Homo sapiens: one gene and its partners. The protein of the gene in region 3 interacts with the protein of the main gene of each other region in a biochemical or structural test. Each region holds a gene or a part of one and is shown on either strand. Other genes may lie near its edges.

Evidence for each region.
Region 1: of the proteins of APOBEC3G (region 3) and USP3, one has a biochemical effect on the other in vitro, tested with the Homo sapiens proteins (one study listed by BioGRID).
Region 2: of the proteins of APOBEC3G (region 3) and ASB9, one has a biochemical effect on the other in vitro, tested with the Homo sapiens proteins (one study listed by BioGRID).

Annotation. Positions count from the first base shown.
Region 1 is NC_000015.10:63,507,526-63,515,152, forward strand, and holds part of USP3 (ubiquitin carboxyl-terminal hydrolase 3), read left to right. Parts: intron 1-4,450; exon of another isoform or gene 4,451-7,627. UniProt on the Homo sapiens protein: Deubiquitinase that plays a role in several cellular processes including transcriptional regulation, cell cycle progression or innate immunity.
Region 2 is NC_000023.11:15,243,405-15,246,628, reverse strand, and holds the end of ASB9 (ankyrin repeat and SOCS box protein 9), read left to right. Parts: intron 1-1,998; coding exon 1,999-2,123; 3' UTR 2,124-2,642; downstream 2,643-3,224. UniProt on the Homo sapiens protein: Substrate-recognition component of a cullin-5-RING E3 ubiquitin-protein ligase complex (ECS complex, also named CRL5 complex), which mediates the ubiquitination and subsequent proteasomal degradation of target proteins.
Region 3 is NC_000022.11:39,072,718-39,080,529, forward strand, and holds the start of APOBEC3G (DNA dC->dU-editing enzyme APOBEC-3G), read left to right. Parts: upstream 1-4,557; 5' UTR 4,558-4,644; coding exon 4,645-4,661; intron 4,662-6,214; coding exon 6,215-6,368; intron 6,369-7,812.

The DNA of each region.
Region 1 (7,627 bases), on a different chromosome or scaffold from region 3:
TTGTAAAGAGGACTCTGAATAATTAAATATCCAAAGCCCATTAAATGGGGACTAGAACAGACTGGCTTTATGCTGAATGATGCTTTACAGGGAGATACAGAACTCAACAAGATTACAAGAAGTAAGAAGTAATTATACTTCAGAATTAGCATGAGCTTCTTATCCATGGAAGGCACTGTGTGTTGGGTTATATAATTGTGTATGACAGTGGTTCTTACACTTTTTGATCTTAGGACCCCTTTACACTCTTAAAAATTGTTGAGCACCTGAAGAGCCTTCGTGTAGCTTATATCTGTTGATGATGTTTATTAGAAATTAAAACTGAGAAAAACTTAAAATATGTATTTATTAATATGCTTACAAATAATAATAGACCCACACCCATAACATAAATTGACAGTTTATGTAAAATGTTTTTCAAAACAAAAATTTAGTGGGAAGAATGGCATTATTTTGCCTTTTTGTAACTCTTTGTTCAGCTTTATAGAAGACAGCTGGATTCTTACATTGCTTCTGCATTCAGTCTCTTGAGATGTCACATCATGCAGCCTCAGGAACACCCCACTGCATGCTTGTGAGAGAATGACTGTAAACAAAAGTAACATCTTAAATATTATGTATGAAAATTGTTTTGACCTTCTGGATCCCCTGAATGGGTCCTGGAAACTTTCAGGGGTCCAGGACCACACTTTGAGAACCCACTTGTGTAAGCTATAGTTAACAGTTAAGGATACCTGCTCATATCAAAATAACTTTAAAAAATTAGAGAAATCCTTAAGGCTACCAACGTTTATGTTTCTGTAGAGACCTGAGGTTTTTGAAATGTATTAGCTGGGAAATAGAGCATGGGCTCTAGTAGTCCTTTGCTGCCAAAAAAGTTAACAGTCTAATCTAGCTGGGGGAGAGACAGGAAGCTAACTAGTTAGAAGATACATCCATGTGGTTTAAGGTAAATGTTGAAAATAGCTATCTCCTAATAACGTAAAGGCTGATTTATGTCTAATTGTTGCTTAAGGGATTCTAGTTTAAAATGAAAAAGTTTTAAATAAAAGGGCATTCTCTCAAGCTTTTTGTTATGTGCACATACCAGATGTTATTTTCAGAAGTTGGAGGCTTGGGCATTCCTTATTTTTGTGGGTAAAAGAGTTTAACCAGTGGGAAAAAACAAAAATTGTTTAAAAAGATGCCCTGAATGCAAGTGTTTTGATAACTAAGGAAAGCCAAGGACCAAGCATTTGAACTTGAGGGTTTGGGTTAAACAGCCAGTTAAATTAGAGATATTTAGTAGGATAGGCATGCTAATTTTTCCCTGATTAATTCTTCAATGAGTTGAGAGTGCCTCTTTAAGTTTTCAGTACACACTTGCCTTCATATTACTCTACCCAAGAAAAGTAAGTGTAGATCAAGTAAATGTTCTGCAATTTTGCACCAAAAACTGCAGATAATTCCACCCAAAATACTGGAGATAAACCCTTTTTTAAGAGATCCATTCAGTAGGATGAGGTGTTGATTATTGGTTGTCAGTGGTAATAAATTTGTAATGGACTGATCAGGTTGTGATAAAGAGAAGAAATCAACCTTGATGGAGTGATGGGTTATTTTGTATCGTATTTCTCCACAACCTACATTTAACACTCGTTTGCCCAGTGGACTAAATTTTCTAAATACAATCAGTCATTTCCTTGTCATTAGGTCAAATGCTTTTACTGCTTTTTAGTAACATTCTATGATGTCTTTATTAAGTGCCTAATACTTAATAGAGCAATTAGTAAATATTTGCCTGATAAATAAAGGAACTATCACTTAGATGTGTCTGGCAGGGTCTTTATGTTGAAAATAAACGCAGAGTGAACTTTCCCCAGAATGCTTTCACTAGCCCGCACTCCCAGTATTTTAGTCAGTAAACGTTGGCTGGATTGTGAGCAAATGACCATCTGCAGTGTTGTTATCACAATGAATTTGTGTTCTTTTGGCAGTCTGTATTTATAGATGGGCAGGTGGACAATTTAGTTGTAAATGTGGATGGGGTAGTTAAAAATCAGTGGACAGGTGATACTTTTTTCACATTAATTCTAAAAAGTAGTATTTGAGTTTTATATATCCTTCTGAAGAATTTAAACTTTTTTGGTAATATTTATAAAGCTTAAGTCAAATGTCTTTCTAGTCTTTCTGCAGTATTCCTCCCCAACCCCGTCCCCCAGAATCTTAGAGCAATCTCAGCTTATTTCTAGAGTCTCTAAATGATTGCTCATGGATGTGAAATGTGTGAAATTTAGAATGTGCTCCATGTATGTGTTTTGTTTAAAGAAGCTTCAGTATAGAGATTGAGCCTAACATTTACTTGTTGTGAAGAAGTTTTGACACATTGATGAGAAGTTCTTTCCCTAATAATATGCTTAATAGTGTATACAGAACATCCTTCATGGTCTAAGCAGAAGAAATGATGGAGTTGGGGGAAGAATTCGAACTCTTTGGTGTGGTTTCCTGTTATTTATCCTCAAAATAATTTATTCTCATTCTTTGCTTGTACACCATTAGCCTTAGGCTCGTGTAACAGCCTCCTTTTTCCTCATTGAAATGTATGTAATTTCCTTCTCCACTGGAATATAAAAGATTGATTTTGGATCCTTCAAGCTAGATTTAGAAATACTTATGTTTTTATAGTGTTTGCAGCTCAGTGAGTAGACCAGTGAGTAATTTAGTGTGTAGCTCAGTGAGTCATTTAAATTCCTGTTTTAAAATTTGAGTCCCTCTTCCATCAGGAGCTGATTAACATGTACATTTCCCCTAACCTAACCTGCTCGTTTTTTTTCTTTTTGAGCTTTTCTCCCCTTCTTGAGCTTGTTTGTTTGTTTTTAATATTTTTCCTTCTTTGAAAACAAAATGTTAGTCTCCTTTGATTAAGCTGCAGTCTCTGACCTACATACATACAGGTTTGTGTTCAACCAAGGCATTGAAATAAATAGATTTAGTCGGTAGATTATCATTGTTTGAAGTGGAAAAGGTATGCTGTTTAACATATTTTGATATTTTATGTTTATTCATTGCCTCTTTAGACAGGAGAGCAATTGCATTCTAGGTGTGTTAATAGAGCTTTCCTGGACAGATGGCTTGGAAGGAAGTACTTTGATGGGTTCTCAGTAGGGGCTAGTACTTTTTGGAGGGTGTGTTTGTGATTAAGCTTACCTTGATTGACAGTTTAGAATGCTGAGAATAGCATTAACAACAGTAACAGCTTGTTCATCTTACCTAGAATTGTCTTGTGCCAAGACCCCTCAAGATGCTCTGAGATTTCTGTGTAGTGGTTTCTTTTGAGAATGTAGGTAAGAATAGGTGTCCTTGAGACTGAAAAGAAATTCACCTAAAATTGTTCATTGTGGTTGTATCTTAAAATCTTTGGGGTCGTTGAATGAACTTTGGCTTAGAAATTTGTAGAGATCGTCTTTTTAACTGCTGTGAGTCTGCAGATGTGATTATCTATAGTAATTCCAGATGTTTTCTCATCTATTAGTTTTACTGAGTAGGAAGATAACTGAGAACAACATAAAGTAACTTCAAAGCAGTTTGCTAGCATTTAATCCTGACTAATTTAATTAATTATTCATCCTTGTAGTTTTTCCTATTTTATTGATTATGAAACTGAGACAAAGGTTACGAGTTGCCCAAGATGCTTGGGGAGTATTAAAGATAGCCCAAAGCTTAAACTCTAACACTGTTCAGACTTTTAGCTTGCTTTTTCTTAAAAAAAAAAAAAAAAGAGTCTTTATTTTGTTATTCAGTAACTTAATGCTTGACAATTTAAAAAATACAAAATGTTTGGAACACATACTTTAAATAATTCCTTTGAAGATTTTTGATATGAAAATATATTTTAAGTTCCACATCTCAAAAATTACTTATTTTAAAATTTGGTCTTTTGTTACCCCCCTCACCCAATTTAATATTGAAAGTGCTGGCAAGTTGGAACAAGGAATTGGTGATATAGTTTGGAAGAAACAACTATTTTAAATGTCAACCTTGTTATACTCAGATCTAATATTTTTATAGGCCGAAATTCATATTGCATTAGTTCAGACATAATAAACCAGCCTCCTCACTATAGCTATGGATAAAATGCAATTAGCTTTTGGTTATTTTTAAAATGGGTTTCAGTTATTGAAGTCTCTCCACCCCCCTTATTTTTTCATTTTGTTTCTGTTAGAGAAGATTCTTCTTGGAGGTGGTTTGTTGTAGGGTGGAGGAAGGAGAGAATTCTTAAGGTATAGAATTTTGCATTTGCTTCTGGTAGCTCAGAGATTATTTGAAATCTTTGCTTTTAGTCAGTATACTTTGTTGATTCCATTTAGTTATTCTAAGATTTTCCAATTGTATTTCCTGTAAAAGTTATAGTCTTTAGACCATAAAAACTAAAACTAGTAACTGCAGATCTTTTTTTTTTTTTTTTTTTTTGAGATGGAGTCTCACCCTGTTCCCCAGGCTGGAGTGTGATGGCACGATCTTGTCTCACTGCAACCTCCGCCTCTCGGGCTCAAGTAATTCTTTGCCTCAGCCTCCTGAGTGGCTGGGATTACAGACGCACACCACCATACCCGGCTAATTTTTTGTATCTTTAGTAGAGTCAGGGTTTCACTCAAATTCCTGACCTCGTGATCCTCCTGCCTTGGCCTCCCAAAGTGCTGGGATTACATGTGTGAGCCTCCGTGCCTAGCCAGTAACTGCAGATCTTAAAACAGATTTCCCCTCTTCTTCTTCTTCCTCTTCTTCCTCTTCTTCTTCCTCCTCTTCTTCTTCTTCCTCTTCTTCCTCTTCCTCCTCTTCCTCCTCTTCCTCTTCTTCTTCTTTCTTCTTTCTTCTTTCTTTTTCTTCTTTCTTCCTTCTTCTTCTTTCTTCTTTCTTTTTCTTTCTTCTTTCTTCCTTCTTTTTCTTTCTTCTTTCTTCTTCTTCGGAATCTCACTCTTTGGCCAGGCTGGAGTGCAGTGGCACGATCTCAGCTCACCGAAACCTCCACTCCCAGGTTCAAGTGATTCTCCTGCTTCAGCCTCCCAAGTAGTTGGAATTACAGGCAGCCACCACCATGCCTGGCTAATTTTTGTGTTTTTAGTAGAGACGGGGTTTCACTGTGTTGGCCAGGCTGGTCTTGAACTCCTGACCTTGTGATCCACCTGCCTCGGCCTCCCAAAATACTGGGATTACAGGTGTGAGCCACTGCACCAGGCCTCCCCCTTTCTTAAGATACAAGGAAGTGTATCTTTTCAGTGTGTGCTCTTTATGGATGTATACAATGCAGATGAATTTAGGAAGGCAATTTCAGATTTTGAAAACTGTTGAAATTAAACTTGAACATTGAAAAATCAAATTTGCAGTTGTCTTAAGTGTTTGCATTAGTTAGATGCTTCACAATTAATAAATACTAGCTAATATAATTTTATAAGACCCTTTGAAGAGGGAATTGTGAGTTTATTTTTAAGATAAGCCAGGTTATATCAAAGATATTGTAACCAACTAGATTTTATTTGGAGACTTTGTACTCTGCTTTAGAATCCAGTAGCTCTATCAGTGTGAGCTGTTTCCATTCTTGAGTAGAAGTTTTCTCCTGTTATTTTTTCTTTGTTCTAGCTGGGTTTAAGACAGCCTTCTTTGTAGAAATTGTTGGCCTGTTTATCCTTCACCCACCCTGAAGACACTTAATTTTATGGACTGTTCTTGTACTGCCTCATCACCAGAAAAAGCAGGCTGGAAATTAACTGTCATATTCCCGCAGGTTTAATTTAACTGATTATAAGAAAGTACAGTTATTGTTCTACCTTCTTTAAATCTTTGTCCTTGATGACCAAGCTCAGGTTTTTATTTTTGCTTATTTATTTATTTTTTGGAAATGGAGTCTCACTCTGTCACCCAGTCTGGAGTGCAGTGGTGCAGTCATAGCTCGTTACAGCCTGGAACTCGCGGGCTTAAGTGATCCTTCCACTTCAGCCTCCCAAGTAGCTGGGACTCCAGGCATGTGCCACCACGCTCAGCTAATTTTTAAATTTTTTTGTAGAGATAGGGTCTCGATGTTACCCAGGTCTTGAACTTCTGACTCTGAGTGATCTTTCCACCTCAGCCTCCCAAAGTGCTGGGATTACAGATATGAGCCACCAGTCTGGGTGGGTTTTCTTTTTTAAATAATAGATTTAAATTGTTCATTACTTTGTTTTGAACATTTGTTGCACAATGCCGGAGTAATATTTTGATTAAAGTTTTTGAATATCAAGTTGAAATTTCTAGAAAACAAATTTCTGACTTGGAATGTTTCCCTGAGATAATCGATGGATGACATGTTAGAAAAATGTTCTACTATATTAGGCATTTAAAAAATAACTGTATAATATAGAGACTGTGGGAGCAACAATGGTACAAATTGCTGGTTGAGCAAATTTTAATTTTAGTTGCACACAGTAAAATGTTCTTTGGTTTCATTAAGATTAACTCTTATTTCCATGTGAATTATTTTGGATATTAATAGTGAGATGCTTTAGCATTGGAGAAATTGCTTTATAAAAACTGAAGGATCAGACTTCACCTTAAGTGTATGAAGTAGCTGCCAGACCTCAACATTCGTGCCATGAGAATTTAATTCTGAGAGCTTAAATGCGTTAGTTTCATTTTATTTGCTTTGAATGTTTTGTTTATATATAGTTTTTTTTAGAGCCTCATTTAAAAAATATATGTATTTCTAGTTTTTTTCTTCGAATATATAATACAGATTTTTGGGAAAATGTGGGTCATGTTTGAAAATTCTATCGATTGTAAAAAAAAATTCCGACTCTTGGTTTTGGTTAAATAATTAGAACAGCTATTTAGAAAAACTGAAATAGTTAATGGTTTTGGAGTTTGCAGGTGCCTGTTTTCTGAAATATTGATTATCTATCCCTCGGGCAGAGTATACGTATTTGCCAAGTTTGTATTTCTTTTTTCTATTTCTTCAAAATAAGTCCCGTTGATTTTAAAAGAATAAAGAGTTTCCCAGTAAGTACAAGTGTGGTACTTTTTCCCCCTCCACTTTGTACTTTAGTGTTAACCTTTATTACATAACCACAGAGAATGAGGAAGAGAATTGTACAATGCAGATATTAAGCCTATTGTTCTCCAAGGAAAGTCTTTGATGTTAAGAGGTCCCTAAACCTCTTAATTATTTTATTTACTTGTGAGAGGGGGTGCTTCCTTAAATATATACGAGTCTTTTCTTATATTGCATACACTTGCAACTATTATTTTGAAATAATAGTTGAGTGGTGTTTACATTTATGACCTGATTCATGTCTTTTGAAGTGCCACCACTGTTTCACCATGGACTTGCTTACTCAGGTTGTTGGCAACAGCATGGAATTGCATCAGATCTTGCTGTATTAAATAAATGAAGATATTAGATGTCAGAATTTTTAAGTAGTTCATGGCTTTTGTTTTTATTTTCTATATGATCAGCTTCATAGGGAAAGTTATTTTTGAAACAATTTGAGCTCCTAATAATTTTTTGAAGCTATTTGTGTCTGGTCTTCCAAAGGCAAAAATGGCCCATTTTGACTCTGATTTAGTAATCTCCTTTGGCTTTAGTGGTTTTTATCCTTCCTCCCACTATCCTTTCCCC
Region 2 (3,224 bases), on a different chromosome or scaffold from region 3:
TGGCAGGCACCTGTAGTCCCAGGTACTCGGGAGGCTGAGGCAGGAGAATGGTGTGAACCTGGGAAGTGGAGCTTGCAGTGAGCTGAGATCACACCACTGCACTCCAGCCTGGGCGACAGAGTGAGACTCAGTCTCAAAAAACAAAAAACAAAACATCAATGGTTGTTGCTGGGGGAAAAAAGAAATCAAGGCCCAAAGGAATATGCCAATTCATAAATACACAATTAGCTGGTTTTATTACCGAGCAAAGCAAACCCCTTGAATATTTGCAGGTGCCAGCAAGTGACTGCAAATCTGTAGTGGGTTTTCAGCTCTGTGTCTATGGACTTGAAGCTACAGTTGTTTTACATTGTCTTACTTGTAGTAAACAGCAGCATTCAGTTGGCATCAGTAGTTATTAATACACTGAGTTTCCTGTGACATCCCACTTTTCTTAATTCTCTATCAGGCCTGCTCTGAGATCTTGTTATTTGTAATGCTTTATCAGTACCTCCTACGGTTGCCTCTGACAGCGTTTCTAGCACAGATGATCAGTCACATGTTTCAACATTCCTTAGTGAGGTTAGATTAGGTTCAGTTTCCCCACAGTGTGCTTTTTGCTGCTCGTTAATATGTGCCTTGAGAACACTGGGAAGCCGTTCATTTTTAAATGCTTTGAGTATACTGGGCATCATCTCATAGGTGCCTTACTCCAACAGGGCCCTTCTGTTAGGGCCTGGTTTAAAATACTGCAAGTATTTTTTTGATTGTATATGTGTCGAGTTCCATCTCTCCTTGTTCTGCATCACCTTGAGAGATAAGTTAACTCGGTTGATCCTGTAGTTGGTGGTATTGCTATAGGAAAATAGAGACCACAGTATCCTTTTGGATGTATTCACAACCCTGACCGCACACTCAGATGACCTCGGGCACATGCCTTTAGAAAATCCAGATGCTTGGGCTTCACCCAACAATAACTGAAGCAACATCCCTGGTTGGGGGGACTCAGCGTCCATGTAGTTGAATGTACCCCCACCCCAGGTGAGTCTGAAGTGCTACCTGGATTGAGGGCTACGGCTTTATGGAGTTCTTGAGGGTATATAGTTTTGCTTTTTAAAAAATAACCAAAAGAAGATTCCCATTACAATTTGATGCAGGAACAGGGGTAGGGGGGCAGGGAAAATCATTCCCCATCCTTTTGCCCTATAACAGAGTTTCTCAACCTTGACGCTATTGACATTTTGAATCAGTTGGGGGCTGTCCTGTGTACTCTGGGATTTTTAGAAGCATCCTTGGCCTCTCCCATTAGATGCCAGTAGCACCCTTCCTCAAGTTTTGGCAACCAAAAATGTCTCCAGACACTGCCAAATGTCCCCTGAGGAGCAAAATGATCTCCTCCTCCTTTCCTTCCCTGAGCCTCCTCCCAGTTGTGAACCACTGTCCTAAAATGTAAACTGTTGGGTGTTCCCTAAGCAAGGTTTGTGCTAGCTAGTTCACTTTTCACTTATGAATTGAAGCATTGGAATAGCTCTGAATACAGGATGTAAAAACAAACACGACTTCACATACTCTTAGGATTCACTGTGAGCTCATTATTTTTGAGTACCTTAATTTGCTCAAGTTATAAAATAAAAATGTTTGCATCTAGAAATATGCCCTTATTTTTAAAGATAAAAGAACACCATTAAACATAAATTTTATTTGTATTATTGGAATTTTTGTATAGCTGTGTAATTCCCAAGTTAGCTTATTTAAGCCTCCATTAGTGAGGCTAAGCTTTAAATTTCTTTCACTCTGTTCTAAATTAAAAACCTAACAAGCTTATTTCAATTAGCTACCGGAAAAGAGAGAACATAGCCTAAAAATGCCTTCTACAAAAAAACCCCAGAAAATGGTCTTAAATAGTTCAATATTATTTCCTTATAACAATGTTCTATCTTGGATGCTTTTTTTTTTTAAAAAAAAGGAGTCTTAGATCAATAGCACCATTGTATGACTTGTCTTATGATCTTTCTCCAGGGCCCCCTTCTTTGATGCAGTTATGCCGCCTTAGAATTCGGAAGTGTTTTGGAATCCAGCAGCATCATAAGATAACCAAACTCGTCCTCCCAGAGGATCTGAAACAGTTTCTCCTACATCTTTAAATGCATCTAGGGAATGGATTCACAAACGATGTGAAAACATTATTGAGTGTTGTAGCCACTAGAATTTTAAAATCAAGTTGGATTTATAGAGTTTGACTAGTTTTTTCGATTAGATTTGTATTTGTTATAAACTTGTTTATGGAGTTTGACTAATTTTTTCTATTCAATTTGTATTTGTTAAACTCAAGCCAGGGTTGAAAGACACTGCATACGTTTGTATTATTAGTTAGAAGGCATGAAGACTTTTTTCCCTGCATGGAGAGTGTCATAAGTTATTGTTTTGCATATCTACTGCATGCCAAGCACTTTCTGCATCATCTAATTTAGCCCTCACAGCCACTGGGTCAAGATGTCCAATTTTCCAGAGTAAGGATAGAGGAGTCAAATTCAAATACAGGTTTTCTGACATTAACTTATGTGATGACTTGATCGAGGCAGGCTTTTCCAGCATCACTGTCCTGGTTCCATCTCTGCTATATGGGAATGAAAATAAAGAAACATATTTCTTGGCTTGTCTAATTTGTTTTAAGCTTCCCTGTTGTTACAACAAAACCACTACTGTCCTAGCATAGTGTGGGCGCCAGTTCTTTTTTTCAACCAAAACACTATACATATTAAGCATATTCTAGAACCTTGCTGCTTAATACAGTAGCAACTAGTTCAGTGGTTCTCCACTGGGGTTAATTTTGTTACCCAGTGATGTTTAACAATAACTGGAGACATTTTGTTTGTGACAACTGAGGAGGGGTGCTACAGGCATGTAGTGGGTAGAGGTCTGGAATGCTGCAAAGCCTCTTACAATGTACAGGACAGCCCCACCGCAAAGAACTTTCCAGTCCAAACTGTTAATACTGTAGTGCCCAGGTTGAGAAACCCTGCTGTAGCCATGTGCCTATTTAGAAGTGTAAATTAATTAAAATTAGGTAAAATTAAAAATCCAGTTTCTCAGTGTCATTAGCCACATTTCAGGTATAAAATATGCACAAATGGCTAGTGGCTACTGTATTGAACAGTGCAGGTACAGATTATTGCAGAAGAAAGTTCCATTGCCCCATTGAACAGATTTCTATTGGACTGTGCTCTTTGGAGGCTCGAGGAATG
Region 3 (7,812 bases):
CTCCCTTCTGAAATCCCTCCCAGCAGTGCAGCTCTGGGCTAGGACACAGCCTAGGGAACGTGACTGAGAAAGAGCCAAGAAAACACTCAGTGATGAAGTTGGTGTTTAAGTAAGATTTTCAGTGAAAAGTAGAATTGGGTACTACATGGAGGCTTGAGATGTTCAGAGCTTTTTGAGAAAGCAGAACAGAAAGTAGAAGGGCAACCAGGAACCAGAGGTGCCAGAGAACCGGAAGCGCGGGCCCTCCGAGGAGACAGGGAGTGGGCACCTGGATCTTGGGCCTGTCAACGAAGAGTCAAACTCAGTAAAATATTTGAAGAGATGTATTCTCAGCCAAATACGAGTGACCACGGCCTGTGACACAGCCCTCAGGAGGTCCTGAGAACATGTGCCCAAGGTGGTGGGGGTGCAGCTTGGTTTTATACATTTTAGAGGGGCATGGGCCATCAATCAAATACATTTAAGAAATACAGGAGCTGGGCGCGGTGGCTCACACCTGTAATCCCAGCACTTTGGGAGGCTGAGGCAGGTGGATCACGCGTTCAGGAATTCAAGACCACCCTTGCCAACATAGTGAAACCCCGTCTCTACTAAAAATACAAAAAATTACCCGGGTGTGGTGGTGTGCACCTGTAATCCCAGCTACTCGGGAGATTGAGGCAGAAGAATTGCATGAACCCAGGAGGCAGAGGTTGCAGTGAGCCAAGACCACACCACTGCACTCCAGCCTGTGGGACAGAGCAAGACTCTGTTCCAAAAAAAAAAAAAAAAAAAGAAAAGAAAAGGCCAGGCGTGGTGTCTCATGCCTGTAATCCCAGCACTTTGGGAGGCCAAGGCGGGCGGATCACGAGGTCAGGAGATGGAGCCCAGTCTGGCCAACATAGTGAAACCGCGTCTCTACTAAAAATACACAAAAAGTTAGCCGGGCGTGGTGGTGTGCACCTGTAAACTCAGCTAGTCAGGGGGCTGAGGCAGGAGAATCGCGTGAACCCGGGAGGCAGAGGTTGCAGTGAGCCAAGATTGCCCCACTGCACTCCAGCCTGGGCGACAGAGCAAGACACAATCTCAAAAAAAAAAAAAAAAAGAAAAGAAAAGAAAAAGAAAAAGAAAAAAGAAAAAAAGAAACAAAAAAAGTAAAGAAAAGAAATACATTGGTTTAGTCCTGAAAGGTCAGACGACTCAAAGTGAGGGAAGCGGGGTTGGGGGGCTTCCAGGCTACAGGTAAATTTAAACATTTTCTGGTTGAGGATGGGTTGAGTTTGTCTAGAGACCTGGCATCCATAGAAAGGAAATGTTCAAGTTAAGATAAAAGACTGTGGAGACCAAGGTTATTTTGAAGTCTCATAATGGCTGCCTTTAGAGATAATAGATGACAAATGTTTGCTATTCAGGTCTTTAAAAGGTCCAATTAGTTAATCTGTTTAGGACTGGGAAGGCCTAGAAGAAAAAGATCCAGCTATGTTAATAGAGGTTCTTTACAGATGCAAATTTTCCCCCACCGGGGACAACTTTGCAGGGCCATTTCAGATATGGCAAAGAAACATGTTTTGGGGTAAAATATTTTATCTTTCTTCTTTGTCACATAATGTTGTGTCTGAGTCAGATTGGAAAGTAACTCACAATATATAGGGTTAAATAAAACCCATTTGTGCCAGGCGCAGTGGCTCATGTCTGTAATCCCAGCACTTTGGGAGGCCGAGGCGGGTGGATCATCTGCAGTCGGGAGTTCGAGACCAGCCTGGCCAACATGGTGAAACCCCATCTCTACTAAAAATACAAAAATTAGCCAGGCATGGTGGCGGGGACCTATAATCCCAGCTACTTGGGAGGCTGAGACAGGAGAATCGCTTGAACCCGAGAGGCGGAGGTTGCAGTGAGCCGAGACCGCACCATTGCAGTCCAGTCCGGGCAAGAAGAGTGAAACTCGGCCTCCATTAAAATACAATAAGATAAAAAAATAAAAAATAGAACCCCTCTGATGAGGATGTATGGGTTGTAAGGCATGACTCCCCAGACCCCTTAGATAGGATTTTGGGCAAGATTAAATAAAACAAATCAGAGCTTAGTCCAAAGGCCTATGAACTAAAAATAAAGTCTTTAGCCCCCACCGATCCCCCCCAACTTTGGCCCCCAGTGGCCAGGGGTATCTCAGAAAAACCTTAAAACTGAGTTCCCAGCCATGATGGGAGGGGAGGTCAGGCACGCCTCATTATCACCCCACCCTTTTGCAGTTTAGACACAACTGACCAGCAGTAATGTTAAAACAGAATCATAAGACGGGCAGAACCAGAACAGACTCTTCATGGCAATCAGATACCAAATCACAACCAGGACCTCAGGCCGTGCCAGGCAAGGGTGAGATCACACACCCCACACTTAAACAGTCAACTCTGTTCTGCCTGCCACAAGATTTTTCTTTTGCTCTAGCAGCTAAACAAGCACTGCCTCCAGATAAAGATGAAAACAATCCCACCTCACCCAGCGCCCGGACACGGAGTAACAGAGCCCCTGCTCCACAGCCCTAATTCCTACTTTCCCTGAGCAAGAGACTGATTTCTGTAACTTTCTCCAGATCAGAAGACCACAGACCATGGACTAGTTCTGAATGGTTTACAGACCTGGCAAATTTTGGTGCCTTCATGTCCTGAAAGGACCTTTTGACATACAGGCTTAATTGTGGTACATTTAAATGTTGTCTCCACCGCAATGTGAGGACGGATAATACAGCTGCTTTTTTTTTTTTTTTTTTTTAATAGATTGTTGTTTGTTTGTTTTTTGTTTTGAGATGGAGTCTCACTCTGTCTCCCAGGCTGGAGGGCAGTGGTGCGATCTCGGCCCAGTGCAACCTCTGCCTCCCGGGTTCAACTGATTCTCCTGCCTCAGCCTCCCAAGTAGCTGGGATTTCAGGCACATGGCACCACGTCCGGCCAACTTTGGTAGTTTTAGTAGAGACGAGGTCTCACCATGTTGGCCAGGTTGGTCTCGAACTCCTGACTGTCATACATGTCCATATAGAAGACCACCTAAACAGGCTTTGTGTAAGCAATAATGCCATTTATTCACTTGGGTGCAACTGGGCTGAGTCTGAAAAGAGAGTCAGCGAAGGGAGATAGGAGAGGGGCAGCTTTATAGGACTTGGGTAGGCGGTGGAAAGTTACAGTCAAAGGCGGTCATCTGTTGTCAGCAGGGGAGGGGGTCACAAGGTGCATGGTGGGAGACCATGAGACCCATTGTCCAGAAGAAGAATGTCATAAGGTCGATTGATCAGTTAGGGTAGGGCAGGAACAAGTCCTAATGGTGGAATGTCTTAAGGTTGGTTAATCAGTTAAGGGAGAAACTGGCTGTTTCACTTCTTTTGTGTTTTTTTGGCTGTTCCAGACTTCTTGGCTGCTGCAGGCCATCTGGATGTATATGTGCAGTTCACAGGGGTCACAATGGCTTAGCTCTGGCTCAGCGGCCTGACACTGACCTCAGATGATCCACCTGCCTCGGCCTCCCAAAATGCTGGGATTACAGGTGTGAGCCACTGTGCCCGCCTGGGATCATATGTTACACGCATGTTTGTTCAATAAGCATGGAGTGCAGCCACCCACATGAATATTCATAGCTCCTCCTGTAGCCTGTTCAATATGTATGTTTAGCTAACCCCTTCAGCATAAAGCTCCTGCCCCAACCCCTCCTGCTTCTAAATGTCTGTCTCTGGTGTTAACCAGAGGCTGCTCTTCCCAGGCTGCTGGATGGCTACCTTGCAGGCTGTCACCCTTAACAAGAAATAAAGTGTCATTTGCAAATGCATCCCTTGTGTAATTTGTAGGTCACCACGCCATGGGAACACGCTACCAGGGGAAGGGAGCTGTGAGACGCGCAGGGAGGCTCCAGACAGGCTGGCCTGGGACACCAGCCGCTGCCCTTCCATAACATGGGGACAAGAGAGGGCAAAAGTTCAGCCCACCACGGAGGATCTCCGGGCAGGAGATGGGGAAGAAGGAGAAGCAGGAAGGAAAGAGCTCAGTGTGGGGGCGCGCATGGCATCCCGGTGGGACATCTGAGGCCCACACCCACCTGCTGTCCCTCCCTCCCACGGTGGCCTCCGAGGGTGACGGCCTGGGGGGAGGCAGACGCCTGGCCATTTACTCTCCCTCCCTGTCCCCATGGCCGCTGGGTGGGGGCCGTCTCTGGGATGATCCCCGAGGGCAGGATCCGGGAGTCCCTGCGGAGGCATCAGCCTGTCTGTCTTGATGGTGGAGAGGAGGCTCCAGCTGGGCGGGACCACCAGGGGAGGGGCTTGTGCTCTGCTGGCTCAGCCTGGTGTGGACCCACCTCCCGGGCGCTGGCTGCAATGACTTTCTCTTTCCCTTTGCAATTGCCTTGGGTCCTGCCGCACAGAGCGGCCTGTCTTTATCAGAGGTCCCTCTGCCAGGGGGAGGGCCCCAGAGAAAACCAGAAAGAGGGTGAGAGACTGAGGAAGATAAAGCGTCCCAGGGCCTCCTACACCAGCGCCTGAGCAGGAAGCGGGAGGGGCCATGACTACGAGGCCCTGGGAGGTCACTTTAGGGAGGGCTGTCCTAAAACCAGAAGCTTGGAGCAGAAAGTGAAACCCTGGTGCTCCAGACAAAGATCTTAGTCGGGACTAGCCGGCCAAGGATGAAGCCTCACTTCAGGTACCGCTGCCCGCTCTACCCACTGGGCCCCTCTGCTGCCCCTTCTTGCCTGGTGGCTCTGCTGGGCGTCAGCCCTGGCCTTCCCCTGCCCCAGCCCCAGCCCTGGGCTCCCTCCCCTCTGACTCCCCTGCACCCCCTACTCCCAGCCAGGCTCCTTGCCCTGCTGTGTTGTCGCCCCACTGCTGCTTCTGAATGGGCCGCCTCCCCCATCTGTCCCAGCCCAGGTCCCCTGCTGAGACTCTCCCCTGAAAGTCATGGCTGGGGTGGTGCTCCCGGCCCTGGGAGGGTGCTCCCTCTGTGTGCTTCCCGCCATTCCTGAACTCTGGAACTGGGAGAATTGAACCAAAGGATGAGTAGAGCAAGGTGGAATTTTGTTCACAGGGCTTTGATGGATTTTCTGTAAGATTTACTTTGCTTAAATACCAAGTCTTAGGAGAGGGTGTGGGGAGGGAATGGTCTCTGAAGCACAGGATAAATCATGTCTTCCAAGGATGTCTCCACTGTGGGCAGAGGAGGATGCAGATGACCCCAAACACACGCTCCTCCTCCACTATCAGCATTCACTGTTTATAAATGACACCAGTAACATGGAATATAGTGGCCGGGTGCGGTGGCTCACACCTGTCATCCCAGCACTTTGGGAGGCTGAGGTGGGCGGATCGCCTGCGGTCAGGAGTTCAAGACCAGCCTGACCAGCATGGATAAACCCTGTCTCTACTAAAAATGCAAAATTAGCTGGGTGTGGTGGCGGGCGCCTGTAATCGCAGCTACTTGGGAGTCTGAGACAGGAGAATCCATTGAACCCAGGAGGCGGAGTTTGCAGTGAGCTGAGGTCGCCCCATTGCACTCCAGCCTGGGCAACAAGAGCAAAACTTCGTCTTGAAAGAAAAAAAAACAAAAACAAAAGAAAAAACATGGAATATATGGGAAAAAAACTCAATGATCAGGAGGAATGTTGTTATTTTAAAATTTAGTAAGAAGAGAGCCCGGTCCCCAATGGCTGCCTCCTGCAGGGCCAGTGATACAGAGACTGGACAGGGCTGGCCTGGAAAGGGGCCCCCACTCCATTTGTCCCCAGCTCTGTGGCCTGGGCAGGTTACCCCGCCTCTCTGCGCGTCTGGCCCCTCCTCTGTAAGACGGGAATGGCCCCTGCCAGCCTAGGGCAGCCTCACATGAGCTCACCCCCGCGCAGCACTTAGAAGACTGGCCTGGGCCTCAGAATTCGGTTCTACCATGATTTAACAATAATAATATACAGAGGTGAAATGTCAGGAAGGAACTGAGCTGAAAGGTTAAAAGCTGTTATTTTGGGGTGAAGAGTTTTATTCTGTCTCTCTCTCTCTTTTTTTTTGAGACGGAATTTCGCTCTTGTCGCCCAGGCTGGAGTGTAGTGGCGCGATCTTGGCTCACTACAGTCTCCGCCGAAATTCTCAGGGGAGGGGAGGGATGGGGGAGGCCTAGAGCCGTCCAGGGGGCTGTGTTTAGTGGACATCAGCCCGGAGGGCCCCCAGGAGTGCTCTCTACATTGGCTGGTTTCTCTCTTGTGTCTTCAGAAACACAGTGGAGCGAATGTATCGAGACACATTCTCCTACAACTTTTATAATAGACCCATCCTTTCTCGTCGGAATACCGTCTGGCTGTGCTACGAAGTGAAAACAAAGGGTCCCTCAAGGCCCCCTTTGGACGCAAAGATCTTTCGAGGCCAGGTACCACCCGGACTCCAATCACTTTGCAGGCAGGAGCTAAGCCAGCTGGGAAAGCAAACCACGCACTGATAAGTGAAGTGCCCGGCGGCGGGCTATCCAGTGTGTCCTTCTCTCCCACACTTTCCAAGTCCGTGGCCCTGACCTTCCTGCTGGACCGTCCTGGGATCGGATCGTGGAGGGGGTTTGCCTCTGCACAAAAGGCCTTGTGTTTCCGTTTTTCTTTTCTTTTCTTTTTTCTTTTTTTTTTTTGAGACAGAGTTTCACTCTTGTTGCTCAGGCTGGAGTGCAATGACGCGATCTCGGCTCACAGCAACCTCTGCCTCCTGGGTTCAAGCGATGCTGTCGCCTCAGACTCGCAAGTAGCTGCGATTACAGGTGCCCACCACCACGCCCAGCTGATTTTTTTTTTGTATTTTTAGTACAGATGGGGTTTCACCATATTCACCAGGCTGGTCTCGAACTTCTGACCTCAGGTGATCCACCTGCCTCGGCCTCCCAAAGTGTTGGGATTACAGGTGTGAGCCACAGCGCCGGCCTAATTTTAATATTTAATTAATCCAATGTGGCTAACATATTACTTCAACATTAATTAACATAAAATTCTTGACAAGATAATGAAGTTTCTTTTTCTTGTCACACCGAGTCTTTGAAATGAGCTGCGTGGGTCACGTACAGTGGGTGGCTCGCACCTCTAATCCCAGCACTTTGGGAGGCCAAGGCGGGCAGATCACCTGAAGTTAGATATTCAAAACCGGCCTGGGCAACATGGTGAAATCCCATCTCTACTAAAAATACAAAAAAAAAAAAAATTAGCCAGGCATGGTGGCAGTCACCTGTAATCCCAGCTACTCGGGAGGCTGAGGCAGGAGAACCGCTTGATCCCATGAGGCAGAGGTTGTAGTGAGCCAAGATTGCATCCTTGCATTCCAGCCTGGGCAACAAGAGCGAAACTCCATCTCAAAAAAAAAAAAAGAAATGAGTGGTGTATTTTTCAGGTGCCCAGGTCTCTAATCAGAGCCCCATTTCAAGTACTCAGTAGTCCCTTGGCCATGTCACCCCCCCCGACATGGACAGTGCAGGTCCAGTGGGCTCCCCACTGACTGCAGGCAGGGAACAAGGCAGACCCTAGAGGGCCAGGCCACAGTAGGGGCTGAGGATGTCTGGTGAATGGATGCCTGGGAGAATGGATGCTAGAATTCACACACGAGGCCATGAACAGGGCTGGGAAAACTTCCAAACTCAGGGAAGCACGTGTCTTGGTGCACCTTGTGATGCTTCAACAGCAGGACTGAGATGGGGACATTTACAATGAACAGAAATGTATGGGCTCGAGTTCTGGACTCTGGGAAGTCCCCTGTCAATGCACCAGCAACTTTCCAGGGCCTGCGAGCTGCACAGTCACGTGGGGGTGAAGGTTGTTGCCAGAAGCTCAGGGGATGCTCCA